Linked DNA regions of Homo sapiens. The protein of the gene in region 1 purifies or fractionates together with the protein of each later gene. This does not show direct contact. Each region holds a gene or a part of one and is shown on either strand. Other genes may lie near its edges. The genes, in order: CLEC16A and ACTR2.

Evidence for each region.
Region 2: the proteins of CLEC16A (region 1) and ACTR2 purify together in Homo sapiens (affinity purification with mass spectrometry; 2 studies listed by BioGRID and IntAct, with this or other methods). This does not show direct contact.

What each region holds. Positions count from the first base shown.
Region 1 is NC_000016.10:11,116,942-11,133,550, forward strand, and holds part of CLEC16A (protein CLEC16A), read left to right. Parts: intron 1-3,673; coding exon 3,674-3,825; intron 3,826-6,800; coding exon 6,801-7,005; intron 7,006-9,037; coding exon 9,038-9,205; coding exon of another isoform or gene 9,206-9,339; exon of another isoform or gene 9,340-9,403; intron 9,404-12,429; exon of another isoform or gene 12,430-12,557; intron 12,558-13,160; exon of another isoform or gene 13,161-13,275; intron 13,276-16,609. UniProt on the Homo sapiens protein: Regulator of mitophagy through the upstream regulation of the RNF41/NRDP1-PRKN pathway. Mitophagy is a selective form of autophagy necessary for mitochondrial quality control.
Region 2 is NC_000002.12:65,230,641-65,247,249, forward strand, and holds part of ACTR2 (actin-related protein 2), read left to right. Parts: intron 1-9,211; coding exon 9,212-9,322; intron 9,323-11,408; coding exon of another isoform or gene 11,409-11,423; intron 11,424-15,883; coding exon 15,884-16,099; intron 16,100-16,609. UniProt on the Homo sapiens protein: ATP-binding component of the Arp2/3 complex, a multiprotein complex that mediates actin polymerization upon stimulation by nucleation-promoting factor (NPF).

The DNA.
Region 1 (16,609 bases):
CAATGGTGGACTGAATGAAGAAAATGTAGTACGTATACACTATGGAATACTGTGTACAGCCATAAAAAAGAACTAAGTCGTGTCCTTTGAAGCAACATGGATGCAGCTGGCAGCCTAAGTGAATTGATGTGGGAACAGAAAACCAAATACCGCATGTTCTTACTTATAAGTGGGAGCTCAACATTGGATACTCATGGACATAAAGATGGCAGCGATAGACACTGTGTACTGCCAAAGGCAGGGGGGTGACAGGGGTTGAAAAACTGTTGGGTACTATGCTCAAAAAAAGAAAAAAATTACTAAAACTCAAACCGTATACTTAAAATAGGTAAACTGTATACTTAAAATAGGTGAACTTTATGGCGTGTAAATTATACTTTAATAAAACTATGAAGAAACAACAAAACATCTCACCTACCCTCTTCTAATCAGAGGCTTCTGTTAATGTTTTGGCACATTTTCTCTGTACTAGTATTTCTTTGTAGGGATAGTTTTTTTTAAAACATACAAAACTCTTGGTAATAACATTTTTATCATCTTTCATTTAAAATTATAATGTTTTCCACAGTCATTGCAATTATTTGTAAAACATGATTTTTAACTTGGGCTTATTATATGTGTTCGAAAGTATGTCTTGAATACTTTTCTCATTTTAAAATAATGTCCCAGTAGAGTGGGACATAGAATAAAAATGAAAGTTCTCCCCTTAATACTTCTCCCACACACACACACTCCTACCCCCAATTCTCACTTCACTCCTCATGGGTAACCACTGTCCACAGTTCGGTTAAACAATTTTTAAATGGGTATATAATTTTGCATCTGGTGGGAAAAAATTGCACTCAAATAGTTCTCCTGTTTGGGGACATTTAGGTTGTTTCCGGACTGAGCTCTCTTGTTTAAAACATAAGTGGCAGAGGATTGCATACAGCGGTAGACCATAGATCTAATGGTCCTATGTTACCCTGGTGATTTCCAAGTCAAGGGTAGACATTAAATTAGACATTGAATTTGGGGATAACTTTCTTTTTCTTTTCTTTTCTTTTTTTTTAGACAGGGTCTCGCTTTTGTCACCTAGGCTACAGTGCAGTGGTACACTCATGGCTCACTGCAGCCTCTACCTCCTGGGCTCAAGCAGTCCTCCCGCATCAGCCTCCTAAGTAGCTGTGAGGCTAATTTTTTTTCTGCTTTTTGTAGAGACAGGGTCTCACTATGTTGCCCAGGCTGGTCTTGAACTCCTGGGCTCAAGCATTCCACCCACCTTGGCCTCCCAAACTGTTGGGATTACAGGCACAAACCACTGCACCCAGCTGGGGACAACTTTCAAGTAAGAGAAGGAACCTAGCATATGCAGAGGACTCCTATGCACAAGACCCCATGCTTTTCCCGCCTTTTCTCATTTAACGCACCAAACAATTCAAGATAAGGGACGTTAATTCTCATTTTACAAATGGGAAAACTGGTTCTGAAGGGCCAAGTGCTGTACACATCCAATGCCCATCCATGTACAACATCCACTGCAGGGCTTGGCTTTAAATTGTCATACCCTGAGTTGAGGGCTTGGTGATTCTGTCATGGCTCAGGGGACTCTTGCTTTACTGTCTTTACTTAATTAGGTGAACTCAGTTTAACCATCACAACTGTAAACTGCCATTAGTCTTTAAAGAAGCACTGAAATGTTACTGAGGTTCTTGGTTTAAGTAAGTTCCATTTGTCTATTTTTGGCTTTGTTGCCTGTGCTTTTGAGGTCTTAGTCATACATTCTTTGCATAGACCAATGTCCAGAGAGTTTTCCCCAGATTTTCTTCTAGGATTTTTATAGTTCTGGGTCTTACATTTAAGTCTTTAATCTATCTTGAGTTGGTTTTTGTATACAGTGAGAAAGAGGGGTCCAGTTTCATTCTTCTGCGTATGGCTGTCCGGTTTTCTCAGCACCATTTATTGAAGATGGTGTTCTTTCCCCAGCGTATGTTCTTATCAGTTTCATTGAAGATCACTTGACTGTAAATATGTGGCTTTATTTCTGGGCTCTCTATTCTGTTCTGTTGGTCCATGTGTTTTTCTTTTTGTTATTTTTTGAGACAAGGTCTTATTCTGTCACCCAGGCTGAAGTGCTGTGGTGCGATCTTGGCTCACTGCAACTTCGCCTCTCAGGTTCAAGCGATTCTCCACCTCAGCCTCCCGAGTAGCTGGGACTACAGGCACACACCACCACGCTCAGCTAATTTTTTTTATTTTTTGGTAGAGACAGTGTTTCACCATGTTGGCCAAGTTGGCCTTGTAAGTCGTGACGTCAAGTGATCTGCCCACCTCGGCCTCCCAGAGTGCTGGAATTACAGGCATGAGCCACAGCACCCAGCCTATATGTCTATTTTTATACCAGTACCATGCTGTGTTGGTTATTACAGCCTTGTAATTTGAAGTCAGGTAGTGTGATGCTTCCAGCTTTGCTCTTTTTTTGTTTGTTTTGAGACCAGGTCTCTGTCATCCAGGCTGGAGTGCAGTGGCATGATCATGGCTCATTGCAGCCTTGAACCACCCTGGGCTCAAGCCATCCTCCCACCTGAGCCTCCTGAGTGGCTGAGACTACAGGTGTGGGCCACCACACTCAACTAATTTTTTGCATTTTTTGTAGAGATGGGGTTTTGCCGTGTTGCCCAGGCTAGTCTCCAACTCCTGAGCTGAAGCGATCCTCCCTCCTCGGACTCCCAAAGTGCTGGAATTACAGGTGTGAGCCATCACACCTGGCCTAGCTTTGCTCTTTTTGCTCAGGTGTGCTCTGGCTCTTTGGGCTCTTTTTTGGTGCCATATGAATTTTAGGATTTTTTTTCTAATACTGTGAAAAATGATGTTGGTATTTTGATAGGAATTGCATTGAATGTGTAGCTCGCCTTGGGTAGCATGGTCACTTTAACGATATCATTTCTTCTGATCCATGAGCGTTGGATGTTTCTCCATTTGTTTGTGTCATCTTCAGTTTCTTTCTTGGATTGCTGATTGTTTTGTTGTTTTGTTTTGTGTTGTGTTGTTTTGTTTTGTTTTGTTTGAGACGGAGTTTTGCTCTTATTGCCCAGGTTGGAGTGCAGAGCGCGATCTTGGCTCACTGCAACCTCCACCTCCCAGATACAAGCAATTCTCCTGCCTCAGCCTCCCAAGTAGCTGGGATTACAGGTGCCCACCACCACACCCAGCTAATCTTTTGTAGTTTTAGTAGAGACAGGATTTCACCATGTTGGCCAGTCTGGTCTCGAACTCTTCACCCCAGGTGATCCACCTGCCTTGGCCTCCCAAAGTGCTGGGATTGCAGGCGTGAGCCACGGCACCCAGCCATGCTGGTTGTTTTTAAGCTACGGCTTGAGCACCTAACATGCAGTAAACATTGGACAGATGCTTTATGTACTTTATATGCTTTATATCAGTCCTAACTAGTAGCAGTTTGAGGGAGTGTGCATTCTCTTTATTATCCAGATGAGGGATCTGAGGTCCAGAGAGGAAAAGAAACTTTCCCGGCATAACTGTCAGAGAAGGGACTCAGACCTAGGTCTGTGTGACTCTAGGCCTGGGCTCTAACCACTGAGCTCTGCTCCTGATAGAATGAGAGTCAGCTTTGGTGTCTCCATCACCCTGGGCAGCCAGACTGTGCCTCATTCTCTTCTCACCTTCCTCCTCCCAGATAACAGCGACTTGATTGCATGTACAGTGATCACCAAGGATGGCGGCATGGTCCAGCGATTCCTGGCTGTGGATATTTACCAGATGAGTTTGGTGGAGCCTGATGTGTCCAGGCTTGGCTGGGGAGTGGTCAAGTTTGCAGGCCTATTGCAGGTAAGATGGCCAGGAGCTCTGGGATCTGTTCTCAGTTGGCTACAAACACACACACACACACACACACACACACCACACACAATTGTCATCTTTATCATTAATTTGTAGTGATATTATACAAGGTATATGTGAACAAATTGTCACCCAAAAAAAAGCTAAAATACCACATAAATGCACAGATAAGAGCAAAGTCCTCTTTGACCAAAACGCTCGATTCTTACACCTCCCCTCCACCAGAGATAATCTTCATTATCAGTGTGACCTTTCCAGATCTGTTTTTCTGCCAAAGGCATATATAAATGTAACTACATGTACTATTTTTAAAAATTATATACATATACTTGAGAGTGTATGTGTGTGTTTTTTATGATATCACATTGAATATGTTCTAAACTTTGCTTTTGTCATTCAATATCAATAGTGTGTCTTGGAGAGCCAGCCACATTAGTACACGCAGACTTCCTGGTATTCTTTTTCACTGCTTTGTGACTATAGCAAGGCATACTTAACCCATGCCGTGTCGGCTATTTCCAGTTTTCTGCTATTTCAGCAGACGGTGCTGCCATGAACAGAATCACTCTTACTTCTTTATGCACTTGGGCAAGGTTTCCCTAGGCAGATACCAAGAAGCTGGGGTGTACTAATTTTAAGTGTTAGTAGACACTGCCAAATACCACTCTAAAATGATTGTTGCCACTGGCATTTTTGTGAATTCCCTTCCGCTCAACGTCACCCCAGCAGAGCTAGGCTCTAACTTGCCAAGTACCAAGCTGGGGCTTGGGTTTTGGGGATTTTTTGGGTTTTTTTTTGTTTTTAATGTTTGCCAACGTGGGCCAGACGTGGTGGCTCGTGTCTGTAATCCCAGCACTTTGAGGGGCCAAGTCAGGTGGATCACTTGAGGTCAGGAGTTCGAGACCAGCCTGGCCAACATGGTGAAACCCCGTCTCTACTAAAAATACAAAAATTAGCCGGGCATGATAGCAGGCACCTGTAATCCCAGCTACCCAGGAGGCTGAGGCACGAGAATCGCTTGAACCCAGGAGGCAGAGGATGCAGTGAGCTGAGATCGTGCCACTGCACTCCAGCCTGGGCGGCAGAGTGAGACCCTGTCTCAAAAAAAAAAAAAAAAAAAAAAAAAAAAGTTTGTCAACGTGATAGATAACTAGTACCAGCTCTTTGAGTGAATAAAGCAAAGAATCAGAAGGGTTGAAAGCAGCCTCCCAGGTCGCCCCTCTGCCATACCCCTTGTCCCTGGATGTCCAGCTGACACTTCAGGCCTGAACTTTGCCCTACTTCAAGGCAGTCCATTTCTTTGCCAGCCAGCCCTGGTTTCTGGAAGGGCCTTGGCTCAGGCCGCCCCACCTCTGCCTTGCCGCAGCCTGACCTGCTGTCTGTGTCCTGCTCTCTGCGAGAACCACCCACATACTTGAAGCTACTGTTACAGCCTCTTCCCCAGCCTCCTCTTCTTCAGGATCTTTCTATTGTAAAAGTGTCTTTTACAAAGTGTGGTGTGAGAAACAACTATAGAAGAATCTTTCATTTAAAAGAAACACTCCATGTAAGACATTATCCATTAAGTGACTTATGCTTATCTATCTAGGCTTTATCTAGGCTTATGATTAATTTCCTTTAGAATTTAGTGTCAGGCAAGTGTTTTTCTCCCCTGAAGAATTAATATGTGTCTTCCATCAGACAATGAAAGCCACATAAACCTTTTTTTTTGGCCGTCTTCCAATGGGTGCTATTTGTCAGGTCTTTACTATACCAGACTCCCTGCTTTAAATGCAGAATGCCTCATCTGATCTTACTGCCGCGTTTTGATGGGGGTGTTATCTCCAAAGAGCCTGTGCCAAATGTAGTGCCTGAGAACCACAACCATCTTCCTCTGTGAGCCTTTTCCAATGTTGTCCCCACCTCCTTTAACATTTCTGACTTTTGTGTTCATTCCCTCTCAGGCTTTTATATCAGATCACCTCAAACCTTCATGGGAGTAGATTGTCTATGCAGAGTCCGTTCTGAGGTTTTAGACTGGTTTGTCTTTATTATATTTTGCTACATGTTCATTTATTCTCCACCTTTGAAACACAGTTTCCTTCAAATCTCTGCTCAATGACCTTCCCTATCCCTTTCTTTTTTTTTTTTTTTTTTTTTTTTTGAGATGGAGTCTCATTCTGTTGCCCGGGCTGGAGTGCAGTGGTTCGATCTCGGCTCACTGCAACCTCTGCCTTCCGGGTTCAAGCGATTCTCCTGCCTTAGCCTCCTGAGTAGCTGGAACTACAAGCGCACGCCACCATGCTTGGCTAATTTTTGTGTTTTTAGTACAGACTGGGTTTCACCCTCTTGGCCAGGCTGGTCTCGAACTCCTGACCTCGTGTTCCACCCACTTCGGCCTCCCAAAGTGCTGGAATTATAGGCGTGAGCCACCGTGCCCAGCCCCTGTCCCTTTCTCAGGATTAGCTTTTCCCTTTGGGGACCAGAAGTTTGTCAAAGACATACAAATGGTTGCCAACGATGTCCCCTTCTTAGAAGAAATAAGGAAGAAATTGATGAGTAGATGAGCAACTATATCTGAGATCATGCCAGATGGTAATAGTAATTTTGGTTCATTATCTCTGGCTTCTCAGAAGTAAGAGTTTGCCTGTGGTGTTACCTGTGGCCCCTTGAAGAGGCTTGTGGGGGTACGCTGTTATTCATGAGCTGACCCCAGTCCTCATGGAAAACAGGCACCAGCCACCACCACCAGCATCCGCTCCTTTGGGGTACTCTGTGCCTCCTCCCACACTGTCCTCTCCCACTGGGCCTGGTCTGCCTTGTGCCCATCCATGACTCTGTTGGACTTGGGAGGCTGTCGATCTTAGATCAAAAGCAGAGATGAATTTGGAGACCTCTTTCTAGATGCCTCATGATGCCACAGCTCCTAGCCACCCTCCTCCCAAACCCAACGAATGCCTTTTCCTTTGCTTCTCACTGTGCAGGACATGCAGGTGACTGGCGTGGAGGACGACAGCCGTGCCCTGAACATCACCATCCACAAGCCTGCGTCCAGCCCCCATTCCAAGCCCTTCCCCATCCTCCAGGCCACCTTCATCTTCTCAGACCACATCCGCTGCATCATCGCCAAGCAGCGCCTGGCCAAAGGCCGCATCCAGGCAAGGCGCATGAAGATGCAGAGAATAGCTGGTGAGTGGCTGGACCCTGGCAGGGCATCCTCTGAGCACTTGGTGGGTCAGGGCTGTTTGTAGTTCTCACACTGACCTTGAGAACCCCCATAGCATAGAAGAAGACACGTATGATTCAGGAATTGTTTTATATACGAATACGAGGAAGTTCCATTTCCTGGGTGTTTGGTTTCTGGTGAGTTTCTAGGGCTGCATGGAAGAGAAGAGGAGCTCTCCCTAGCAGGCAGGAGGCCAGCAATAAGTAGACGTCAGTGTGGGACCACTCTTCTCAGCCCTTCACACTGAAATTCTCAAGCATATGTTAACAAAGTGCTTTGACGTTACTCTACCACCTCCGATCCTTAAAACAACTCTGGAGTTCTGTAGGGCCTGCTCTGCCCATTTTACGGAGAAGGAAACAGGCTCAGGGACTTGCCCAAAGTCACACAGGCAGAACCCACAGGCAGAACTTCCTACTGTAAACTTACCCCTTCCTCCTTCCCCTTCCCAGTTCTTATAAGAGGCAGCCCTGCTTGGTGAAAGGCTGGAACCCTTGGAAGGAAGTCATTTTACATTTCACGGGGATTGCGGTGAATTTCTGAGGAAGCCCAACACTGCCCAGTATTAGGAAGGCCAGGATTTATTACAAGGAAAGTCACAGAAATGAGGGAGATGCGTTCATTGGGCAGGAAGGCAAGGCCTTCTCCTCGGCGTGGGGGGAAGGCATGCTGTCAACTCCTAAAATGACAGTCTTTCTCAAGATACCCAGTGCCATTCAGTTCAGGCACCAGTGCTCATCCTGGTGGCTGCTGAGAGGATTTTAAGCCTACCTGGGGATGTGGGGGTGCTTTCTCAAGGGATAACTTTAAAATAAGCCCTTGACCAGGCACGGTGGTTCATGTCTGTAATCTCAGCACTTCGGGAGGCCAAGGCGGGTAACTCACTTGCGCCCAGGAATTCGAGGCCAGCCTGGGAAACATGGCAAGACCCTGTCTCTACAAAGAAATTACAAAAATGAGCCAGGCGTGGTGGCATACGCCTGTAGTCCCAGCTATTCGGGAGGCTGAGGCGGGAGGATCACTTGAGCCTGGGAGGTGGAGGTTACAGTGAGCCATGATTGCACCACTGCACTCCATCTTAGGAGACGGGGTGAGACCCTGTCTCAAAATAAACCCTCAGAGGGCCAGTTTCTGGGCGTTACCGATGCGATGATTTACTGTGCTGATTTGCACAGGCCCGCGTCCCACGTTGTCGTCCCCGTCTCATTTCTCACTTAGCTGAAACTTGGCCTACAAAATCATTACTGAAGCATTCTGTAATGTGCAAAGTGACTTAAATCATTCAGCCCTTTCTTTTAAGATTTATTTTCAGAGAGTTTTTTTTTTTTCTTCATGTAAAGCAATTTCTCACAGCTGGCATGAAGGCCAAATACTTCATTTGAAAATTGAGAATTATGCTGTAAAGTGGCTGTTAGAACTAAAGCCTTGGGTATTTCTTAAATTGATTTTAAAAAGCCCCTCCGTATGGATATATTGGGAGGTTTATTTATGGAAGGGAGGTTAGTGGCTGAGACAGATAAACACCCACTCAGAGTTACACATGTACATGCACATCCATATTTTCGCATGCTCCTGCACATGTGCGGATATACATACACACGTATACGTGTGAACTCTCTGGGCAGACTCGGCCCCACTCGCTTGGGGTCTGAAACAGCCTTTGTCAGGGTCCTTTACACATGGAAGCTGAGAATCCAAAGTGGAAATTGACCCAGCTTCCATTCCACTCGAGGAGCCCAGGCTCAAACCCCTTTCTCCTTGGTCTCAACCTTGGCCCGAAGCCCTCACTTGGCTTCCGCTTGTGCGTTGAGCCTCAGTGGGAACTTTGATGTTCCACTGGTCTCTGCAGCTTGAGGCTGCCTGCCGCCCACTTGGCGTCTCCCAAGTGATGTGCCTGGCAGGGCCACAGCCACTACGATGTCCCCCCCCCCAAATTCTCACCACCCCCCTCTATCCCACATGCTCAGAGTGAACCATGCTATTGTTTGACCGTAGCCCTCCTGGACCTCCCAATCCAGCCCACCACTGAAGTCCTGGGGTTTGGACTCGGCTCCTCCACCTCCACTCAGCACCTGCCTTTCCGCTTCTACGACCAGGGGCGCCGGGGCAGCAGCGACCCCACAGTGCAGCGCTCCGTGTTTGCATCGGTGGACAAGGTGCCAGGTGAGCCAGCCCCCCGCCCTGCGCCACAGCTCGTTCATCATGGTGGGCGTTCAAGGTCTTTCTCTCTGTGGAGCCTGTGTGAGCTGCCCTTCCTCTCTCAGAAGCCCCGTCGGCTGGCAGCACCAGCTTCTTAGAATTTGTCAAAGCACAGCGCAAGATTAAACACAGCCCCCAAAATAAATTTTGGCTTTCCCTTTAGTGTTTGGTTTGGTTTTCCAGAGATTTGTTGGGTATGTGGAAGAACTTCTCAGAATTGACTAAGAATTTTCTTGGAAATTTCTTGGAAACATTTAAATGATTAGTGCTGAAGTTGTGGGAGAGTAATTTCCTTCTCCATGTAAGATGACTAGAAAGAGAGAGTGTGTTTGGTTCCGGTTACAACCCCCTGAAGAAGTGAGACTTCAAAAGAAGGCCGTGCTGCCCACAGGTCAGCTGTCCACTCCTTCCATATGAGGGCGTCTCCTCCCACTTTTGCCACAGCTCATCTCTAACCCTGCTCCTCCGCTCCTCCCAAAACAGAAACTTGAATGGAAAGTCCATTGCTGATTTGTCAGAGTGGAAAGGACCACTTCTCCAGAAGACCGAGTTCTCCCCTTCCTGTTCTGACATGTCTGCTTTAAGTAAATCCGTATGCACCCCGATCCCTCGAAAGAGAGCCTTTCTTTTGGTTGCAAAAGTTTAGAGCGCTGGCCAAGCTCTCCCTCACAACTTAACCCCTCCCCATATAGGGCTTCAAACTTAAGTTGCAAGTGTTGTGAAATGTTTTCAAAAGCAGTTATTGATTTAAGAACAAAACGCAGCCATAGGAACCTGCTCAAAACCCGAGTCCTGGTTCCCCCATGTGATTTATTTTAGTTTCATTGTTTGATAATTCATTATTTATATGTATATACCGTAGGCATATGATTTTTTAAAATCCAGACAGGAGATGATCAAATGAAAAATAAGTCTACTTTGCTTCAGAAGTAACTATTGTTAACAGTTTCTTGCCTGTCTTTCCAGAAATATTTCTTTGTATGTCATGCATATGTTTGTTTTTTACACATGGGGTATACCGTATGTCTGATGCTGCACCTTGCTACTTCTTCCTTAATAGAAAGTGTCACACATTAACACGTATAAATCAACCTAATTCTCCTTAACTGTTACATGGTATTTTGTCATATGGATGGGCAAAAAAATCTTTTTTGCTGTTTCGTATTTGGGTCATTTCCAGTGTTTTGCTCTTACAGTGTCACAGTGAGCATCCTTAGGGTGTCTTTGTGTAATTGTGCAAATTTCTCATGTCTGTGTGATAAATTCCTAGCAGTGAATTTGCCAAAGGGGAAGGTTTTTAATCTTGATATATGTAGTCCCAACGTGAACTCTAGAAAACAGTACACCAATTCACTCTGCCACCCACAGCTTGTGATTGGTTTCTTTCTTAAATCCAGTCTCAGGGCTGGGCATGGCGGCTCATGCCAGTAATCCTAGCACTTTGGGAGGCTAAGACAAGGCGGATTGCTTGAGCCCAGGAGTTTGAGACCAGCCTGGGCAACACAGTGAGACATCGTGTCTAGTATAAATAAAAAATTAGCCAGGCATGGTGGTGGGCACCTGTGGTCTCAGCTACACTCAGGAGGCTGAGGTGGGAGGGTCACTTGAGCCCAGGAGGTTGACGCTGCAGTGAGCTATGATTGTACCATTGCCCTCCAGCCTGGGCAACAGAGTGAGACCCTGTCTCAAAAAGAAAAGAAAAAAATAATCTTAGGCTGAGAGACTGATTGTGGCACCGCCTGTTTTCAGTGATGAAATGTGAGATGATTCTGCCTGTTTCAGGGTCAGGAGGATTCTTTGCTTAAAAAATTCTGCAGGTTGCTTCGTGTTCTGTGGCTATGATTGCTAAGTAAATATAAAGTGTGACTGAGTCTAAGTTAACTAAGTACAAATTGACCTGGTAAGAAATGACTTCTTTAGGGTCATTGAGGCGTCTTTCAGTTTCGGAACTTACTGGTTAAAGAGAAAAGCCCAGGCCTTATTTCTGTTCTGAGCCCTTTTGGAACAAGGTAGAATGTAAATAAATACATGGAGCCAAGCGGCCCATTCTTCAGCATCTACATGATCATTTCTCTGTTTGCAGAATGCTTTAGGATGACTTATTGCTTACCTCTTCTACCCTGCCTGGCCTTCCACCGGTGGGTGAGAACATCAAATGCCAGGAGTGTGGCCCGGCTCCAGAACCTGGGCCTGCCTGCCGGGGTGGTTGGCACAGCTGGGATGCCCCATGTCCTGTTGCTGGTCCCAGGGTCAGCAAGTGTGAGGCTGTGCCAACTGGGACAACAGCAAGTCAGAGGTGGCTGCTGAAGGCAGCATCCACCCCTTGGCTGTGTCTCCCCTGACTGCCCCTGGAAGTGCCACTCAGCTATGAGGAGTGAGATGGAGACATTCTTATTTATCACACCACCCCCGCAAAGAGGGAGGCCTCGCTGCCCTCCCACCTTGGCTTGGCACCAGAGCTGTGTCCTGAAGAGCAAGTTGAAATCCCTGAGCCTTGGCATGGTGGGAGCATAGGCTGCCCCCACCCCCATCTCAGTAGTCAGGGTCCCCCACAGCAGCAGCCACTCAGCACTTTGGAATCATTCTTAAAACTTTTCACCCTGCTTCCACACCCACCAGCCTGCTTGGCCTCCAGAAAATACTGAGATCCGAGATCTCCTCTCCCAGATCTCCCAAGATTGCAACAGAAGCCTTCTCAGGATCCCTAGCTTCCATTCAGCCAGTGGGATCATTCTAGTACTTAAATCAGATTACGTCATACCCCTGCCTCCAGCTTTTTGGTAGTTTCCTGTTGCACTTAGAACAAAATCCACATCTCTCCTTCTGATCTTGGGTGGTGGCTGTGAGATCCGGCCCCAACTGGCCTCTCAGATGAAGTTCCCCCAACCCCAAGCTCACTCTAGCCCCAACCCCAGCCTTGCCAGCCCCTGCTGCTCCTCTAAGCTAGCATTTCTCAGAGTTTTAGCCTCAGCACCCACGTGTTTATCTGCTTAAAAAGTATTACAGAACTTAAAGAGCTTTCATTTAGATAGATTATATTTATAGATATTTATGACATTAGAAATTAAAACTAAGAAATGCTTTCAATATATACTTCTTGAATAAACCCATTGCATATATGCATAACTAACATAGTTTTCTATGAACAATAACTCTGTTTTCCAAAACATAGAAAAAAATTGATCTTGCACATTTCTGCAAGTCTCTTTAATGCCTGGCTTAATAGAAGACATCTGGATTCTCCTCTTTGCTTCTGTTTTCTGTCTGTTGTGATAGCATGCATTCTGTGGCCTCTGGAAAACTCCTCAGTACACCCCTGGGAATATGAACATAAAAGAAAAATGTCTTACTATTTTTATGAAAACAAGGATTTCCAGACCACACTTTGAGACCCACTCCTGTAAATCACTGTGGCCTTCCCTGCCCCAGGGCCTTGCACTGGATGTCTGTACCCAGATGTTGGTGTAGCTGCCTCCCGCTAACGGCTCAGGCTTAGTTTGTGTGCCGCCTCTTCAGTGGCCTTTTCAGATCAGCTCCTGGCTAGGGTTGTCCCCTCCCGCCACTGCATTGGCCTGGTTCCTTTTTTTTTTTTTTTTTTGAGATGGAGTCTCTCTCTGTCGCCCAGGCTGGGGTGCAGTGGCACAGTCTTGGCTCACTGCAAGCTCCGCCTCCCGGGTTCACACCATTCTCCTGCCTCAGCCTCCCTAGTAGCTGGTACTACAGGCGCCCACCACCACGCCCGGTTAATTTTTTGTATTTTTAGTAGAGATGGGGTTTCACCGTGTTAGCCAGGATGGTCTCGATCTCCTGACATTGTGATCCGCCTGTCTCGGCCTCCCAAAGTGCTGGGATTACAGGCGTGAGCCACCGCACCCAGCCTAGCCTGGTTCCGTTTATCCACAGCACTGAGGTTCCTTACCTGGCTGATGCCTTTGTGTGCCTGGTCATAGTCTTTCTCCCCTGCAGAGAGGGTTGCCTGCGTGGGAACCTTCTGTGCTGTTTACCCTGCATCTCAGCGCCTAGCTCTGTGCCCCCACTTAGTATCGTTGAGTGAAGAATGAGCCTGCATTTGTTATCTGCTCAGCCTTGGAACAGAGCCCATCAAAGGCCTTCTCCCTTCTCTGAACACGGGAAGACAAGGAAAGTCCCTCTGGGGCCCTAGATACTTGGTGGTTTAGTCCATGGAACTTTGACAAGGGAACACAAAGGAACTGAGAACCGAGAAGACCTTAAGCAGCATCCCTCGGCTAAATTTCTGTCACCAAGCGAGCAAGATGTGTGTCCAAGGACCATGTACCCAGGTGACAGATTTAGGTTGGTTGCATATCAACTGAATTTCACCACCCTCCTCCTACTCAGAGTTTTACAGAAGCCACAGAGTAGTGACACGGGGAGCCGGGCAGTGGAGGGAGATTCGGTCATCAGAAACCTGGCCCAGGTTGGCCTCTGATACTGTGACATGTCACCATTGCCATCAAGGGCCCGTGGGTGCTGGGGCGTGACCACTTCCCACCCTCCACAATGGTGCCCCTCCCCATAGGCCGCACAGCGCATGGAGTCCTTGCTTCTGCCTAGATAATAATTCACAAGGAAGAAAACAACTCTGGCTGCTGCCTCGGGGTGGCTGCCAGACAAGGGTGTTTTATTAGGACACATCTTCCGATTTTATCTGCGGGCCCAGGTAATTGTCATAGAGCAGTTTGTCTCCCCTTTAGAAGCTATAAACGATTGTATTTGATGAAAATATGCCTTTCATTTCCTTGGATGAGATATTAAAGTAGTGTATAAATCAGGGCTAATAGGTGACTAGCCACTTTGGTGTATTTTTCTTCTTCCATTTGGCTCAGAAAAAAAAAATCACAAGTTCTATTTATTGGCTGGTTTTATGTTGATGGCTCTCACCCTCACAGAATGTTCAGCTTCACGAGGGATTGTGCGTGCGCCTGGCCAAGGAGGGGGGTCAGTGGCGGCCAGTATGTGGGGGTGGGCAGGCATGGCCAGGCCTAGACTCTAGCCTGAGCACTCTGTGGCTTTGAGTGCCATGTTGCTGTGGTTAGTGCCTCATGGACCTGGCCCATGGCAACAGCTGCTTCTAGAGATAGAATCTGTCATGATGGGCAGGGTGTCCAAAACTCGCCTGCAAGGCCACCCTTTCCATAAACTCCAAGTGGACCAGCAGACCCCAGAGCAGAAGCTGTTCCCCAGAAATGACCCAGGGGTGTCAGGGGCTACGGCCTCCCAGAACAGCCTTGCTCCTCACTCTGGGCTCCTACTGGCCCAGAGGCTGCTTCAGGAGGCCGCAGGGAACCAGAGCTGCTTACAGGTGTTACCCTGGTGGGTTGGTGGGTGTGGGAAGGGCTGGCAGAGCACACAGCTCAGAGGAGCAGCCAGGCAGGTTGACATCTCCTGGCCCTTGCAGATGAGGGCTTAGTGACATGACAAAAAAGTGACCTGTTCCCACCTGGTTTACCATCAACCGCTCCCCACCAGCCTGTTAACTCCGGGACAGGGACTTCTCTGCCTCTTCTGCTGCTCTCTCCTTAAAACCCACCAGCCCCTCCTGTCACCAGCCCCTCTCTGTGGCCCATGGTCCCATGCAGTCTGGCCCCTGCCCTCTTCTGGGATCAGCTCCCAGCCCTCTCTCCCCTCGGCTCTCTGCAGATGACACAATCCAGCCCTTCAGCCGCACTGGCTGGCTGGCTGTGCCTCACCAGGGCCAAGTGCGTCCCATTTCAGGGCCTCTGTTTTCGTGCTTCCCTCCGCCTGGAGCCCTCTGCATGGCTGGTTCCTTCTCAGCACTCAGGGCTCTGCTCCGATACCTCAAAAAGGGGCCTTCCCTGAGTGCCCAGGTCACCCTAGTTCTCTGCACGGCAGCTTGTTTTTAATTGAGGTGAAATTTAACACAACATAAAACTAACCACTTGAAAGTGAACAATTCAGTGGCATTTAGAACCTTCCCAAGATTGTGCCATCATCCTCTCCTCTAGTTCCAAAACATTTCCATCCCCTCAAAAGAAAACCCCATAGCCATTAAGTAGTCATCGCCCACCCACCCCCCCCGCCCCCGCCCCCATCCAGCCCCTGGCATCCACTAATCTGCTTTCTGTCTCTATAGATTTACGTAGTCTGGGTATTTCATATCAATCATACAATCCATGGCCTTTCATGCCTGGCTTCTTTCAGTTTGCATCATGTTTTCAAGGTGCATCTATCCTTCTTTTAGCTGAATAATATGCATTATATGGATAGACGTTGTTTTGCTTCCACCTTCATCCATCAATGCACATTTGGGCTGTGTCTGCCTTTTGGCTATTGTTGAATGGGTTGCTGCGAACATTCGTGCACAAGCTTTTGTTTGAACGCCTGTTTTGTTTTCAGTTATTTCTGGTATATACCTAGGAGTAAAAAGTAGGTCATGTGACAATCTAACTTTCTGAGGAATTGCCAGACCGTTTTCCCATGGTCTTCATAGTCCTTAGCTTTAGCTGAAATTGCCTCTTGTATTCCTTGTTCTCTGACACTATCCTGCACTAGAATGGAAGGCACTTGGCCAGGGGGTGGGTACAGGGTTGTGGGGAACCTCGTTTGTCTTGTCCTTGACAGTGCTCATGGATGCCTATGAAGTAGTTGCTCAGTGAATACCGATGTGTGGGCGGATGGATGCATTGGTGGATGGGAGGCTGGGGGACAGAGGATGGGGCTGGAGGAATTGTTCAGTCTTGTTTTCCCAACAGACTGTAAACCCCTAAGGCCAGGGTATTTCTGTCTTATTCAGGTCTGGTACCCTGTGCCAGTTGGTGGTGGTTTGGGTGTGAGCTGGCAAGTTGGACTTCATCCCTTAAGGGCTAAGCTGGACTTTATTCACTTCCTGTCCCAGCTTCCTACTGGGTTTGGGGCTCCAGCTGTCTTGTGGTAGATATTTAACTCCCCTGTATCACCTGAGGTCAGGAGTTCGAGACCAGCCTGGCCGACATGGCGAAACCTCGTCTCTACTAAAAGTACAAAAATTATCCCAGTGTGGTGGCGGGCACCTGTAGTCCCAGCTACTCGGGAGGCTGAGGCAGGAGAATCACTTGAACCCGGGAGGTGGAGGTTGCAGTGAGCTGAGATCTTGCCATTGCACTCTAGCCTGGGTGACAGAGTGAGACTCTGTCTCAAAAAAAAAAAAAAATTTTTTTTTTGACTCTCCTGAGTATCTGGGCCATGCCTTGCTTTTCACCGGTGTTATCTTTATCAAAGGCACCTAAACCGGCAGGGTCAGTCACGTGACCCAGAGCACTTAATAGTTCCGTGGAAAAGCCTCGCCGGTTCCAGAGGCAGCCCTTGGCAGCTGAGTAACTTAGGAAGAATGCAGAAATGACAGTGTGC
Region 2 (16,609 bases), on another chromosome or scaffold:
GGTTAAAAGATCTGCCCACTGCGGCCTCCTAAAGTGCTAGGATTACAGGCTTGAGCCACTGCACCCTGCTGTCAGAAGCTAATGTTATGTTACTATTCCATTAGTTAGCTAACATTAGAAGGCTGATTTTAGGCTGGGCGTTGTGGCTCATGCCTGTAATCCCAGCACTTTGGGAGGCCGAGGTAGGAGGTTCACTTGAGGTCAGGAGTTTGAGACCAGCATGGCCATCATGGTGAAACCCCGTGTCTACTAAAAATACAAAAATTAGCCGGGTGTGGTTTCTGATGCCTGAAATCCCAGCTACTTGGGAGGCTGAGGCAGGAGAATTACTTGTACCTGGGAGGCAGAGGTTGCAGTGAGCCAAGATCACGCCACTGCACTCCAGCCTGGGCGACAGAGTGAGACTGTCACAAAAAAAAAAAAAAGCTGATTGTAGTATGTTATTGATTAGTCTTGTGTCTAATCCATGTTTTTAAGATTCTTTTCCTTAAGACAAGTGATCAATTCCTGTCATAAATGAAAAAAGTGAGTGTAATTAATTCAAATAAAATTTATCTGTTCTTATGCTTCTAGTTATTTTAAAATTTTATGCAGATTTTCTATGGACATGATTGGTTTCAAATGAAGAAACAGTGCTGTTAAAATACATGAATCATATAACAGGAATGCTGTAATAGTTCTGAGTATGTAGAGGACTAGGAACCGCTTAGATTGTGTATTCTGTTTCTTACCATTTGTAGACATGAATAATCATCTTGATTTTATTTAGATACCTGAAGTTATAATGATTCCTTTATAATTAAATATTAAAGAAGATATTCAGATGTAATTTTGCAAATTTATGGAAATAGTTGTTATCCTAAGGTGTTTTCATTTGCTCCTTACATGCCTTAGGTTTTAAAATTGTAGGCTGGCTGGGTGTGGTTCCTCATGCCTGTATTTCCAGCATTTTGGGAGGCCGAGGTGAGAGGATTTCTTGAGGCCAAGAGTTTGAGACTAGCCTGGGTTAGTATAACAAGACCCCATATCTAGTAAAAATAAAAATAAAATTACAGGCTTTTTAAAAAGTTACGATTCTTTTAACCTCTCTGGCAGACCCAAATTAAATATTCTAGGACAGGAGTGTCCAGTCTTTTGGCTTCCCTGGGCCACATTGGAAGAGGAATTGTCTTGGGCCACACATGAAATACACTAACAATAGCTGATGAACTAAAAAAATCACCAAAAAAATTTCATAATGTTTTAAGAAAGTTTGTGAATTTGTGTTGGGCCTCATGCAGCCCGTGGGCCATGGGTTGGACAAGTTTGCCTGGAAACAAGTTTGTACTTACGATCACATGACCAATGTTGGTCCCGCTTGATTTTCTATCTCCCAGCTTGACCAGTGTCTCAGTAGGGTTGCCCAGAGGAGGAAAACTCATTTGATCCAATAATTTATGTGGATTTTAACCATTCAAACCTCCTTCTGAAATCAAGCCACTTAAAGTGGCCCAGATAGGTGAAAATCTGGAGGTCTGTGAAACTCTAGGTTTAGGTCCTCTTCACGAGCTAGGCCCAGGCCCCTGGTGTTACGTGTCTTGTTACCAGACTAGGGTGATTTCATCAGCATTGAGTTAGATCACCAACAAAATGAAGGTTTCTCCAGTGCGTGCTATGTTGCTGGCACAGTGCTTAATAAGGTCCAGTCGTACAGAGAAGCTTATAGTGCTAGAATAATTGCATTTGCATTTATGTAATTGACATTTGTAGTTGATTGTGGCCTGCTTTATCGGGCTTATGCTACTTTATATGTTGAATTTAGGAGTGTTTGAAACAGAAACAAACCAAAACCAAATTTGGTTTCATCTTGCAAAATGCTTTGGTATAAGTAGAATAAATATTTTGGTGGCCTAAGATCAGAACAGTCACTGTGCAGTTAACTTACTAAAGAACATCAGTACCATGAGATAAAATTAGTAAGGGGAAAATAAATATTAAATAAGCCCAAATGGGGCTTTATAAATCCCAGGTTATTATTTTTTTGAAGAGAAAAAAAAAATGTACTTTTAGAGCAGATGTAGATAGAATTTTTCATTTTTGCTTGAAAGAACATTATACTGTTCATATTCTTACCATTTGATGACTCAGTGGGAAGTAAGGGAACTAGTTTAAACCACACTGCTGTGAAGAGGAAACTATATATGGTAAAATCTATTTCTTAAACACAGCCTTACTGCACACAATGAAAGAACGAAGTCACCAAGTCTTAAAATGATTGACATGGGGGAGGAATTTCAAGGATTAAGATGATACCAATGATACCAAATGATAGTTTAGAAAGGAATGTTTTCTTTGTATTTTATCACATCATGGTTTAGTTTTTTTTTTTTTTTTAGACAGAGTCTTGCTCCGTTGCCCAGGCCAGAGTGCAGTGGCATGATTTTGGCTTACTGCAGCCTCCATCTCCCGGGTTCAAGCAATTCTCCTGCCTCAGCCTCCCCAGTAGCTGGGATCACAGGTGTGCACCACCACGCCAGGCTAATTTTTGTATTTTTAGTAGAGATGTGGTTTCTCCATGTTCGTCAGGCTGGTCTCCAACTCCTGACGTCAGGTGATCTGCCTGCCTCAGCCTCCCAAAGTGCTGGGATTATAGGCGTGAGCACTGCGCCCAGTCTAGATTTTTTTTAATACTGATTATTATTATTATTTGCAGAAGTAATCAGATTGTCAGTTTTATATTATTGAAAAATTGGGGCCAGGCACAGTGGTTGATGCCTATAATCCCAGCACTTTGGGAGGTAAAGGTGGGAGGATTGCTTGAGGCTGGGAGTTCAAGACCATCCTGAGCAACAGCGAGACCCCTGTCTCCACAAAAAATAATATAATTTAAAAATTATAATTTTTATTTTTTCTTTACTGCTTCTTGCAGAGCAGGACTACCCCATAGGCAGTGTGCCCAGAGTAGCCAGTATAATTTTTTTTTTAATTATTTTATTTTATTATTGTTTTTGAGACAGAGTCTCACTCTGTCTCCCAGGCTGGAGTGTATTCATGTTATCTCGGCTCACTGCAACCTCCGCCTCCCAGGTTCAAGTGATTCTTCTGCCCCAGCCTCTCAAGTAGCTGGGATTACAGGCATGCACCACCACGCCCAGCCAATTTTGTACTTTTAGTAGAGATGGGGTTTCACCATATTGGCCAGGCTGGTTTCGAACTCCTGACCTCAAATGATCCTCCTGCCTTGGCCTCCTAAAGTGCTGGGATTACAGGTGTGAGCCCCCACACTCAGCCTTTTTTTTTCCTGACAGGGTCTCACTCTGTTGCCTAGGTGGGAGTGCAGTGGTACAATCATGGCTCAAGGCTCAACGTAGCCTCAACCTCCCTGGGCTCAGGTGATCCTCCCACCTCAGCCTCCCGAGTTTCTGGGGCTACAGGTGTGTGTCACCACGCCTGGCTAATTTTTGTATTTTTTGTAGAAATGGGGTTTTGCTCTGTAGCTTCAGGCTGGTCTCGAACTCCTGGGCCCAAGCAATCCACCCACTTTGGCTTCCTACAGTGCCAAGATTACAGGTGTGAGCCACCATTCCCAGCCAATTATTTTAGTTCTTGTTATTATAACTGTTAATGTTTTCACTTTTGAAGTAATGTGAAATAGTGCAATTTTTGCTATCTTGATGGATGAATATATACCCTGTATGAAAACTGGTGCTGAGTTCTATGGCAACATCTGCTTCCAATAAACTACTGCTCAAGCAGAATAGTTTTATTAATAAGTGATTGATAATCTTTAATTTGAATGAAAAGTCTTTTTTTTTGTTAGGCAGTAATAGTAGGTTTACAGTTGTTTTTATAGTTTCAGGGATTTCAGTTTTTGTCTTCTAACTTGGGAAATGTTTGTTGCTTAAAATATACTCATAAGAATGTTAAGATACGAACTACCCATCTGAACGATTATAATTGGAAGACTTTGAGTGATGTGATTATTTGCCACTTTGCCATGTTGTATGTCCAGTGTGTGTAGCTCTGAAGGAGAGGGGAGACGTGTCAACCTTAGCAGCCTCTTCCCTGCACTAGGATCAGACCTATGCTCCATCCCAGGCTCCTCCTGCCACCTCCAGCTTCTCTTACGATTTCTCACTTAGTAAACTTATTTATTTGCATTCAGCATGCCAAAAATGAACCTTACAAACTGGTAGGTTCTCTTTTCATTCATTCATTCATTCTATAATTTTTTTGAGATAATTTATACGCATATAAGTGAGCATTTTCATCCGGATAAATGGATACTTTTGACTATATCTGTTTATTACTTGGAGGTAGGCATAATAATTTAATATCAAAATAGTATTTAATTCCCATATTTGAGATATTTGTGTAAATTATGACTGACATTAGGCTGGCGATCATGACAGATGTTATACAGAAATGTGGGAACAATAGGGATAATGATGAGAACAGATTCTCTTCCATATCATTTAAGTTTGTATCAAGTAAACTGGATTTTGACTTAAAAGAGAGTTTGTGATTTGGGAGAGAAGAGTGTGTGAGAGGTGTGTGTGTGTGTGTGTGTGCACGTGGTGTGTGTGTTATGTTTTAGTTTGAAAATACTAAAAAATACTAGATGTTATTCTTTTCCTCTGAGGTAGTTTTTCCTCCATGTCTTAGGTCACATTATTTAAGAAGACACTGAGAAAAAATGAACTACTACTCCTGAATTCTGTTCATTTTAAGGGTGGGAAGTGTATTCCAGTTCATCACTATCAACCACTGCCAAGGGGAAATAGCTGTGAGCAAGTGGGTTATCTATTGCATATGCTATCATATCATGCTAACTTCTGCCTTAAAAAGTAATCCAGGCTGGGTGCCGTGGCTCACGCCTGTAATCCCAGCACTTTGAGAGGCTGAGGCGAGTGGATCACGAGGTCAGGAGATTGAGACCATCTTGACCAACTTGGTGAAACCCCTTCTCTACTAAAAATACAAAAATTAGCCAGGTGCAGTGGCGAGCGCCTGTAATCCCATCTACTCAGGAGGCTGAGGCAGGAGAATTGCTTGAACCCAGGAGGCAGAGGTTGCAATGAGCCGAGATCACGCCACTGCACTCCAGCCTGGATGACCGAGTGAGACTCAGTCTCAATAAAATAAAATAAAATAATCCAAAAGAATTGTATTATACTTTTAGAAATGGATAGCTGTACCTGAAAAATGCCCTTACCTTGGTGGCTCAATATAAACTAAGACTAGGTTTGTGGGCTTGTAAGAAGACATCTGAATAATATGTTTTATGTAGTTTCTATTAATAAAATGTAAACATGAGGTGAAAGGATAGGAATTGAGGTGGCATTGGGAGTGTGAACTTTCCTCATTTCAGACGAATTTTTCATAAAAGCTTTAATCTGATTGTCATGACTGTAACATATTTGAAAAAACTCTGTTTTTAAAAGACTAAGTGGGGCCGGGTGCGGTGGCTTATGCCTGTAAGCCCCAGGCTGGTGGATTACATGAGGTCAGGAGTTAGAGACCAGCCTGGCCAACATGGTGAAACCCCGTCTCTACTAAAAATACAAAAATTAGCTGGGCGTGGTGGCAGGCGCCTGTAGTCCCAGCTACTTGGGAGGCTGAGGCAGAATTGCTGGAACCTAGGAGGCAGAGGTTGCAGTGAGCTGCGATGACGTCACTGCACTCCAGCCTGGGTGACAGAGCGAGACTCCATCTCAAAAAAAAAAAAAAAGACAAGTGAAATTCTGGATGGCAGAATGTCCTAGGCTATTTATAATTAAATGTGGTTCATCAGCGTCATCTCCAACAGGGCTGCTGTAGAGATCTTTGAAAATACCAAATTTTTATGTTTTGGAGAGCTACATAAGATCTTGCTAAGTTTTACCGCATTAAACAAAAGAGTTTCTTGTAGATAGTAGCTTTCTTTTGTTGTTGGTTTTTTGTTTTTTTGGGTTTTGTTTTGTTTTGTTTTGTTTTTTTTGAGACAGGTCTCATTCTGTTGCCCAGGCTGGAGTGCAGTGGCGTGATCTCAGCTCACTGCAACCTCCGCCTCCCAGGTTCAAGTGATTCTCATACCTCAGCCTCCCAAGTAACTGGGATTACAGGCATGCACCACCATACCTGGCTAATTTTTGTTGGTTTTAGTAGAGATGGGTTTCCATCATGTTGGTCAGGCTGATCTCAAACTTCTGGCCTCATGTGATTCAAGTGGTGTGCATAGTAGCCTTCTATCAAGAGGTACATTGCTCTTTTCTGTCTACCTTTGTTTTATTACTGTCATGTATCACATTCAGGTACTATTTTTCATCCTTAATTCTAAGAATGTGTGGTGCCTGGAGCCATAGAAAAACAGACTTTTTCTGAATATTAAATATATTTTAAAACAATCATGGTATCATACTGTTAAGTCAACAGCAAAACTTTTAATATTTATTGATCATTTACTGTGTACCTATTATGTGCCAGACGCTGTTCTAGGCAGTTGGAATTCATCAGTAAACACAGTGTAGCTAACATTAAATAAATGCTTGTTAAAGAGGGTGCAGACTATGATTACATTTCCTTTCTTATATAGCTTCCTCCTCCCACCCTGAAATTTTTAATTGCCCTTTCCTTGCAATGTCTGCTCTTACTAGACTATGTATTATTTATTTTTTGTATGTTTTTTGAGACAGGGTCTCACATGATCACGGCAGCCTTAACCTCCCAGGCTCAAGTGATCCTCCCACCTCAGTCTCTGGAATAGCTGGGACTATAGCACATGCCACAATGCCTGGCCAATTTTTAAATTTTTTGTAATTTTTTCCGGGGGGGAATCTTGCCGTGTTGCCCATACTGGTCTCGAGCTTCTGGGCTCAAGTGATCTACCTGCCTAAGCCTCCCAAAGTGCTGGAATTACAGGTGTGAGCCACTGGGCCCAGCGTAAACAGACTATACAAGAATTTGTAACTGCCGGGCACAGTGGCTCATGTCTGTAATCCCAGCAACTCAGGAGGCTGAGACAGGAGGATCATTGGAGGCCAGGAGTTCCAGACCAGCCCGTGCAACATAGTGAGACCCCATCTCTACAAAAAATTTTAAAACTTACGCTAGGCGTGGTGGCTCACTCCTGTAATCCCAGCACTTTGGGAGGCCGAGGCAGGTGGACCACTTGAGGTCAGGAGTTTGAGGACAACATGGTGAAACCCCGTCTCTACTAAAAATAAAAAGAATTACCTGGGCGTGGTGAGGTACACCTGTAGTCCCAGCTACTCAGAAGGCTGAGGCACGAGAATCACTTGAACCCGTGGGCGGGGGCGGTGGAGGCCAAGCTTGCAATGATCTGAGATGGAGCCACTGCACTCCAGCCTGGGCGACAGAGTGAGACTCTGTCTCAAAAAATAATAATGAAAATAAAAACTTATTCGGGCCTGGTGGCACATACCTGTAGTCCCAGCTACTTGGGAGGCTGAGGTGGGAGCATCACTTGAGCCCAGCAGTTAGAGGCCACAGTGAGCTGCAGTTGTGCCACTGCACTCCAGCCTAGGCAACATACAAGACCCCAACTCTAAATTTTAAATATTTTTTAAATTAAAAAAGTATTAAAAGCTCTTGATTCTCTCAAGTTTTACTGTAGTTAAATCCTGTAGAATATCAGCTTCTTATGTATAAAATGGAAGTCTTATCACAATGATATGTTCTCGGAGCAGTACACAGAGAATGAAATTATGTTACCCGGTATTACTAAATATATTTATCTAAATGTAAAAATGTAAATAGGGCCAGGCGCGGTGGCTCACGCCTGTAATCCCAGCACTTTGGGAGGCTGAGGCGGGCAGATCACGAGGTCAGGAGATCGAGACCATCCTGGCTAACACAGTGAAACCCCGTCTCTACTAAAAATACAAAAAATTAGCTGGGTATGGTGGTGGGCGCCTGTAGTCTCAGCTACTCGGGATGCTGAGGCAGGAGAATGGCGTGAACCCGGGAGGTGGAGCTTGCGGTGAGCCGGGATGGCGCCACTGCACTCCACCCTGGGCGACAGAGCGAGACTGTCTAAAAAAAAAAAAAAAAAAAGTAAATAGCTAGCCAGGCGCGGTGACTCAACGCCTGCAATCCCAGCACTTTGGGAGGCCGAGGTGGGCAGAGCAGCTGAGGTCAGGAGTTCGAAACCAGCATGGCCAACATGGTGAAACCCTGTCTCTACTAAAAATGCAAAAATTAGCTGGGCATGGTGGTGGGTGCCTGTAATCCCAGCTACTTGGGAGGCTAAGGCAGGAGAATTGCTTGGACCTGGGAGGCAGAGGTTGCAGTGAGCTGAGATCACGCCACTGCACTCCAGCCTGGGCGACAAGAGTGAAACTCCGTCTCAAAGAAATAAATAGCCAAAAATGCCTAATAAATGTTTCTTTTCATAATACGGTGATATTAGTTTAAATGACACTTGGTTTTCCCATTTTGGAAAATGACATTCTCTAAGCGATTTGCCCAAAATGAATGAAAGTCTGCTTTAGAATTGAAGCTTTAGTTCTGTTCATTTTCTCACATTTCTCTTTCTAAAAATACTTAGCATTTTGCCGGGCATGGTGGCTCACGCCTGTAATCCCAGCACTTTGGGACGCTGAGGCAGGCGGATCACCTGAGGTCGGGAGTTTGAGACCAGCCTGACCAACATGGAGAAACCCCGTCTCTACTAAAAATACAAAATTAGCTGGGCTTAGTGGCGCATGCCTGTAATCCCAGCTACTTGGGAGGCTGAGGCAGGAGAATCACTTGAACCCAGGAGGCGGAGGTTGCAGTGAGCCGAGATTGTGCCATTGCACTTCTGCCTGGGCAAAAAGAGTGAAACTCCGTCTCAAAACAAAAACAAAAAAAACCTTAGCATTTGTTCAGCGAATTTGTCCATCCCACAGATACTTCTGGAGTGAGCACTGTGTGCCAGGAGCTCTGTTAGGTATTGGATTCCAGCACGAACTGCTCAGCTTAGCTCCCTGCTCTTATGAGGCTTTTGGTCTAGTGAGGGAACTTAGGCACTAATTTAGCAGTAAATAAACATGAACCCTGGAAGTAGGCAATGCCGTGAAAGAAGTTAAAAGGAGATGTTGCGATAGATTGAGTGGCTACTTCGGGTGGACTGAAAGCACCAAAAGTTTAAAATGTTATATAAATGCAAAGTGATATTTTTCAGATGCTGTCTTAAAATATAGTAAATATCCTGATGCTAACCCACTTTTATTTTACTGTTTCATTCCAGTTTGTGAAGTGTGGATATGCAGGCTCTAACTTTCCAGAACACATCTTCCCAGCTTTGGTTGGAAGACCTATTATCAGATCAACCACCAAAGTGGGAAACATTGAAATCAAGGTAATATTTTATTTATTGATAAATGATAATCAAGACATGTGAGGTGTTCTTATAAAAGTAGTTTAACAGTTCTTTTAAGTAGTTTTAAAATATGTTGCCATGAAAAGCAAAGGGGAGGGTAGAAGTTCTCATATTTTTAATTTATATCAACACCTGAACAGGGGCACAAAAATTGAAGTTAATTTCATCTGATTTTGTTTATGTATGGCTTGATGCCATTACTCTTTGGAGTAAAATACTTAAGTTTATTACATTAATGTGAAACGCTGTGTTAGTGACTTAAGTCCTATTACATAATATAATTTTTAAAAGAAATCGGCCTGGTATTTTTATGTCTTTCAATTCCATATATTTGTCATTGTATGTGAGTGTCTCTTTGGCACCTTAGACTTTTTCTTTTCATGTTTTTATGGCCTGATCCCTCTACTTTTTTATATAGCCATTTAGGAAAACACAGGGTGTAAATCTCATTGATTCCTCTTTTCATTAATATAACTTATTTCCATAATGTGCAGAAGGAAGCCATTCAAGCCTTTATTTGGCCTTGGATTATGTATCTTACCATAAAGAGGAAGGAAAGTTTTCATTGCCTACTCGCTGTATTTAAGATGAAAGACTACATGAAAAGACGATCGATTTTTCTCCCATATTAAAGGGATCAGAAATCAAGTAGGAGTTACAATATTTGACAAGAAAGAGAACAGTGAGAGGACAGTAGTCACCAGTTGGCTTTAAGTTCTTCAGGTGACTGAAGGATCAAGTTATACAGAATGCCATAGAATTTAGGGTCTTTTTTAGTGAATTATTTGTGAACACGCTAGCATTGTTTGTCCTATCTGGATAGTCTTTAGCAAGCCTTCAGTGTAAGGTTATGAGTCATTTGAAATATGCATTAGGGCGTATCTCTTTGGGACATTTGTTTTATGTAGGAAGGTGGTAATGGGTGGTAGAGATTTGCTATGTAGCCTTCTGCTTTTGGGATAGAGAGTTGAGTTACACAATGAATAAAAATACAAGCTGAAACTTGGGTTCTGTGTTAGTTTTTTTTTTTCAGAGTTAAAGTAGCGAATTTTTCTGGCCTCTCCTGTTAACAAAAAAAATAAAATGGGACACTCAGTGTAAGTTTTTCCTTTTTAAGGAGCTTTTGGAATATTTGTGGGATTCCTTACTTGCTTATTGTGAACTCCTTTCATTCTGAATGAATTCTATCTTAAATGAACTTTGACTGGAAATTAGCTAATAATAGTGATAAGGATAAACTGTTTAATGAAGTTGAAGGCTATACTTTTTATTCAGTGTCAGGTTTTTAAAGAATGGCTTTTTTATATACTGGACAATAAAATTTTTGAGGTATGAAGAAATATCATGTATAGCCATAAATTTATTTTGCAACATAGGCACAAATAACTACACATCTCTTCATGCCCACTTTCTTCGTGTTTAAGGCCAAGTGATAGAAATCAAATTTGTCAGTATGCTAATAAAACATTTTTGCCAAGGAATTCCCTAGCAGCATTTGCTTGTATGGTTTGTCATTCTGTATTCTATTGGCTCAATTCTGTTCACTCTGTGCAATCTTGTAAGCCTATCAAGTTAAATTATTCTTCGAGTAGAAAACAGCAAAAGATACCTGTGTCAAATAAATTTAACTTGAACACTAGAGCTTGGAAAAACAACCCTGAGCTATCTAACACTCTGCCTACTCAGCTAGACCTTTGCTGTTATCATTTATTTTTCTTAATTAAAGTTCTTAAGTTCAGTAATGAATTAAAGAAGCTTACTTTTTGGAATTCCTGTGCTTAGTATTTTGACTTATACTTTTTGTGTCTTGTTAGCTAAAATGTGGTAGACTGAAAAATGGAAATTTAAATCGTTTAATGAGTTAATTTGCATTCAGGAATAACTGTCCATGTTAATTTGGCCCTAATTATTAACTCCATTAAATATAGTAGTACTGCATCTGACCTCAACCTAATTGTCTCTATTGCTTGTATGTTTAAACATTTCAGTGAGGATTTTATTTAGGCCTTTTCTGACTCTTACTTCTACCTTCTCTCTCTTCACCTTTCTTGACCCGTTGAAGTAGAATAACAAAAAGATGGTAAGTGAGGTTACACACATGCTCTGTTTGTTTTCCACTTTTGCTTGATGGGACAGTAGTTGTTGTTTTGTGTCCCTTTAGTATTGGGGAGGGGGGGTTATTTCCATATTTTTATTTTAAGTACTTTGATTTTTAACCTTTTTCATTGCTTCAATTTGATAGCAACTAATTAAGTCCTATACTTTCCTGATTGCGTACAATGGACCAAACAAGAACTAATTACTAACATAGTTTTGAATTGTTTTCCTTGTTTTTCTTGTAGATGAATGTTATAATTAAAATGGAATGTGTTGTGCATAATATTAGAAACCAGATGGCTTTATATAGGATATGTGTGATCCAAAAAATTCAAGTGAAGTTGTTACATTTGAATAAATTCACTTTATTGACCAGTATTAAATTGAACATTGACTGTCATAGCCTGTATATATATTTGCATCTAGTGTGGTATCATATGTGTACTTAATAAACTGAGTAAAATTTTAATATGTAAATAAACCATAGATAGAAAAAGAGAATTCTTTCCATATCATCCTTACTGATGAGCAGATTTCACAACGTTATCTGAGGATAAATAAGAAAAAGGTAAAGCTTTTCTATAAACAACAGATTTCCCCCCCAAACATTGTACAGTGTGTTTTTCTTTATAACTATAAGCTTGCTGGTCTTATCTCAGACATTTAACTCTTCATTGTATTTTTCTGTGATAGTCTAAGTGCTTCTGTAGTAGATACTTTTCAAGTTTGTTTTTAATATTGTTTGTAAGAATCTCTGACAAAAATCAGGCACTTCTAATATATATTTTAACTAGTAATAGTAACTTTGTGAAGTTTTCTTTTGAATAAACAAAAACATTTAAAAGAGGAAATTTATCCTAAATAAAAGATCATAACATTTGTGTTTATATTCTAATGAGATTAAGAAAAGGGTGTGCTTGCTGGGCACGGTGGCTTGTGCCTGTACTCCCAGCACTTTGGGAGGCCCAGGCGGGTGGATCACGAGGTCACGAGTTCAAGACCAGCCTGACGAACATGGTGAAGCCCCATCTCTACTAAAAATAGAAAAATCAGCCAGGTGTGGTGGTGTGTGCCTGTAATTCCAGCTACTCAGGAAGCTGAGGCAGGAGAATCGCTTGAACCCGGGAGGCAGAGGTTGCAGTGAGCCGAGATCACGCCACTGCATTCCAGCCTGGGCAAGAGTGAGACTCCATCTCAAAAAAAAGAAAAGAAAAGGAAAGAGTGCGCTTGTAGAGAACAGTGTAGGCTTATTTTAACAGAAGTTTTTGACCGAGTGAGGTGTTTCATGCCTATAATTCCAGCACTTTGGCAGGACGAGGTGGGAGGATAGCTTGAGCCCAGGAGTTCAAGACCATCCTGGGCAACATGGCAAGACCCTGTCTCTATAGAAAGTTTTTTAAAAAGTAACCAGGCATAGTGATATGTGCCTCCCAAGCAACTTGGGAGGTTAAGGCAGGAGTATTGCTTGAGCCCAGAAGTTTGAGGCTGCAGTGGGTGATGACAGGGCCACTGCACTCCAGCTTGGGTGACAGAGCAAAACCCTGCCTCTATTAGTTAATTGAACAAACAAACAAATGTTTTCAGTGGAATTTTCTTCTAGGGATTTAATTGTGCTTTTGAACTTGAGTTTACTCTGTATTCTAATTTGAGGTGACATTGTTCAAAATGATTCTTGGCAAATGTAATCCCTACTACCCACTTTTCATGAAGTATAAATACCTTTGAAACAGCATCTCAGTTACTGTGATTTTTTTCATTGTTTCAGATAGGTGATGTTCAGTGGCGGGGCAGGTGGTTAAAACCTAAGGTCTGATCTGATCACTTATAACTTGGTTCTGAGTGATGAAGGCAAGTTATATAACACTTAGTAGGATTTTTTTATTAAAATTTTCGATATGAAAATTTTTTAATTGGATAGCTTGTATAGTCAAACTTTGTACTTCTTAAATAAGTTAATACTCCATTTTAAATGTCCTGTTTGTTCTGAGGAAGGTAAGGATACTCAATTCCAAACATTTCTTTCAGTTAATCCTTTATAGTATGTGTGGTCCTAGAAGTAGATACATGAGGCATTTATTTAGAGTTGGCATTGGGTCATGTAAATGTAAGCCCCTATTTGTACATTAAATAAAAAGTAAATTTCTGTTGAAATCAGATCAGACTTATTTCAAATTGGTTGAAATAATACTGATTATATTATCTAATTATCTAATCTGTTATCTTGTACAACACACAAAAAAGACGTAAAGTTAGTAACAAAAATGGTATATATAATTACAGGTATAGATTTCCCCCCTAACATTTTATTAAGCAGTATTAAGAAAATGTAGCAATATTGAAATGATTTTACAATGAAACTTGTATATCCATCACCTGGATTCTGACATTAATATATATCATACTGATTTATTACATATCTGTTCATCTGTTCATTCATCAGTGCATCTTGTTTTTTGATGGATTTCAAAGTAAGTTGCAGATACCAGTATACTTCTCCCTGAATACTTCAACATGTGCATGTTATTAACTAGAATTCACAAATACAGATTTTTAGTTTTGCATATTCCTCATAGAAGAATCTAAACGGTTGGGTGTGGTGATTCATGCCTATAATCCTAGCACTTTGGGAGGCTGAGGTGGGCGGATCCCTTGAGCCCAGGAGTTCAAGACCAGCCTGGGCAACATGGTGAAACCCTGTCTCTACTAAAAATACAAGAATTAGCTGGGCATGTAGCCTGTAGTCCCAGCTACTTGGGAGGCTAAGGTGGGAGGATCACCTGAGCCTGGGGAGGTTGAGGCTGTGGTAAGCAATAATGGCACCACTGCACTCCAGCTTGGGTGACAGAGTGAGACCCCATCTCAAAAAAAAAAAAAAAAAAGAGTGTAAACATTTAATATTTCAGATATTTGAGTAATAAGTTAGTAAGTTATGGTAAATGAACTTCATAAGAAATTGCAACAAATTTTTACTGAGCATTTCTAGCATCTGTTTTTAACTTTGTTATACTTTTTGATGCTTTTAGTGGATTTTCCAGAGATCTGTTTGGTTTTTTGTTAGAGTCCTCACCTTGGTTTCATCTCTGATATTTTCTTTTTCTTTTTTTTTTAATTTAAAACTCATATATTTTTAAGCCTTTGTTTTAAAACATCTCATGTTGGCCAGGTGTGGTGGCTCATGCCTGTAATCCCAACACTTTGGGAGGCCGAGATGGGTGAATTACTTGAGGTCAGGAGTTTGAGACCAGCTTGGCCAACATGGTGAAACCCCATCTCTACTAAAAATACAAAAATTAGCCAGGCGTGGTGGCAGGTGCCTGTAATCCCAGCTACTCAGGAGGCTGAGGCAGGAGAATCGCTTGAACCTGGGAGGCAGAGGTTGTAGTGAGCTGAGATCATGCCACTGCGCTCTAGCCTGGGCAGTAGAGCGAGACTCAGTCTCAAAAAAATAATCTCGTGTTAATTTTGCTGCTGCTTTTTTTTGTCTCTCCATAATTAAAACTTAACGTATTGTAGCAAATATCTACTTCTGATACTAGTTTTTTTAATTGAATTTATCAACATATGTAGAAATTAGTATTATTTAACCTCTTGACTAGCTGTTCTCTAAAAATAAGTCTAAATGCTAGGACATCCTTACTTATTATATATAGAAAATGTGACTTTCAAATGTGGGTCATCTTAAGTATGCTCTCATTGGAGACAAGACTTGTGAGTATTATGCTTCATGTGTGATGGTGTAGTTTTCCAGTATACTTTAAGATTGAAAATGTTGCTCAGGAGACAATTTTAAAGGATGGGTTATTTGCCTATATCTTAATTTTTTATAACTCTACAAATTCTCATTCACCTTGGTGAGGCATATGTAGAAACAGTTTAAATTCTTATTCAGGCATATGTAGATAGAAGTTTGTGCTATTTATTAGTTGGTGTATGTATGCATTATTATAGAGTAATAAAGAATCATTTTATTTTTTGCTTCTTTCATTATGCTTTATAGTACTTACATTTATCATTTTGATATTTAGTGCAAAGAAATGTGCTGCATGCATTGAGCATTTTTCTACAAGTTTTTTTCCCCCTGATGTGCTATTTCACATATCACAGGCCTTATTTTTTGAACAATTGAGCAAAAGAAACAGATGAAACCTCATACAAAACCCTCCAAAATATGAAAATGTGGGGTTTATTTGTGCTAATGCTCTTCTTTTGGAAACATTTGTGTTAAAGGTAAGGTCAATTTATTGATTTAAACCACATTGTATGTAAAAATGTATTATCCATGATTAAACTTTCTAAGACATTGTTCTTGATAGAAAAGATTTTCTAACTTGTGGAATAAAAAGATTTATTTTGCAAGTGTCAGAAATATTAAAATTAATTATTCCCAAGTTTTCTTAAATATTATGCAAAACTTTGATCTACAGCTTTGACATAATTTTCTAGGATCTTATGGTTGGTGATGAGGCAAGTGAATTACGATCAATGTTAGAAGTTAACTACCCTATGGAAAATGGCATAGTACGAAATTGGGATGACATGAAACACCTGTGGGACTACACATTTGGACCAGAGAAACTTAATATAGATACCAGAAATTGTAAAATCTTACTCACAGAACCTCCTATGAACCCAACCAAAAACAGAGAGAAGATTGTAGAGGTGAGTTTTTATGCAGGATATGCATATGTGTATTTCTGTGATATTATGTTAAATCAAAAATTTTCTTACTGTTGCTATGGATAAAGAGAATAAAAATAATTGTTTTCCTTCAGATCTTATTAAGTATCTACTATATGCTAGTCATTATTCTAAGTAGGAAAGTAGGATAGATCAGTAAACAAAAAATCCTACTGCCATGGAGTGTATATATTCTAACAGGGAAAAACAGACCAAAAAAATTAAGTTTTTAATTTAGTGAGTTAATTAAGTTAATTAAGTTTTTATGGAGGAGCCAGCAGAAGGAGACTGAAAAGGCTAATACAATAAGCAGTTACAGAGTTAATTAAATGGTTTGTTAGAAGGTGAGTGATCCAGTTGACCCATGAGCAATGCAGGGGTTAGGGGCACCAACCCTCCCTACTCACGTGCAAACTTAACTACCACCCAAAATACTTAACTTCTAATAGCCTACTGTTGACCAGAAGCCTTACTGATAACATAATATGTATT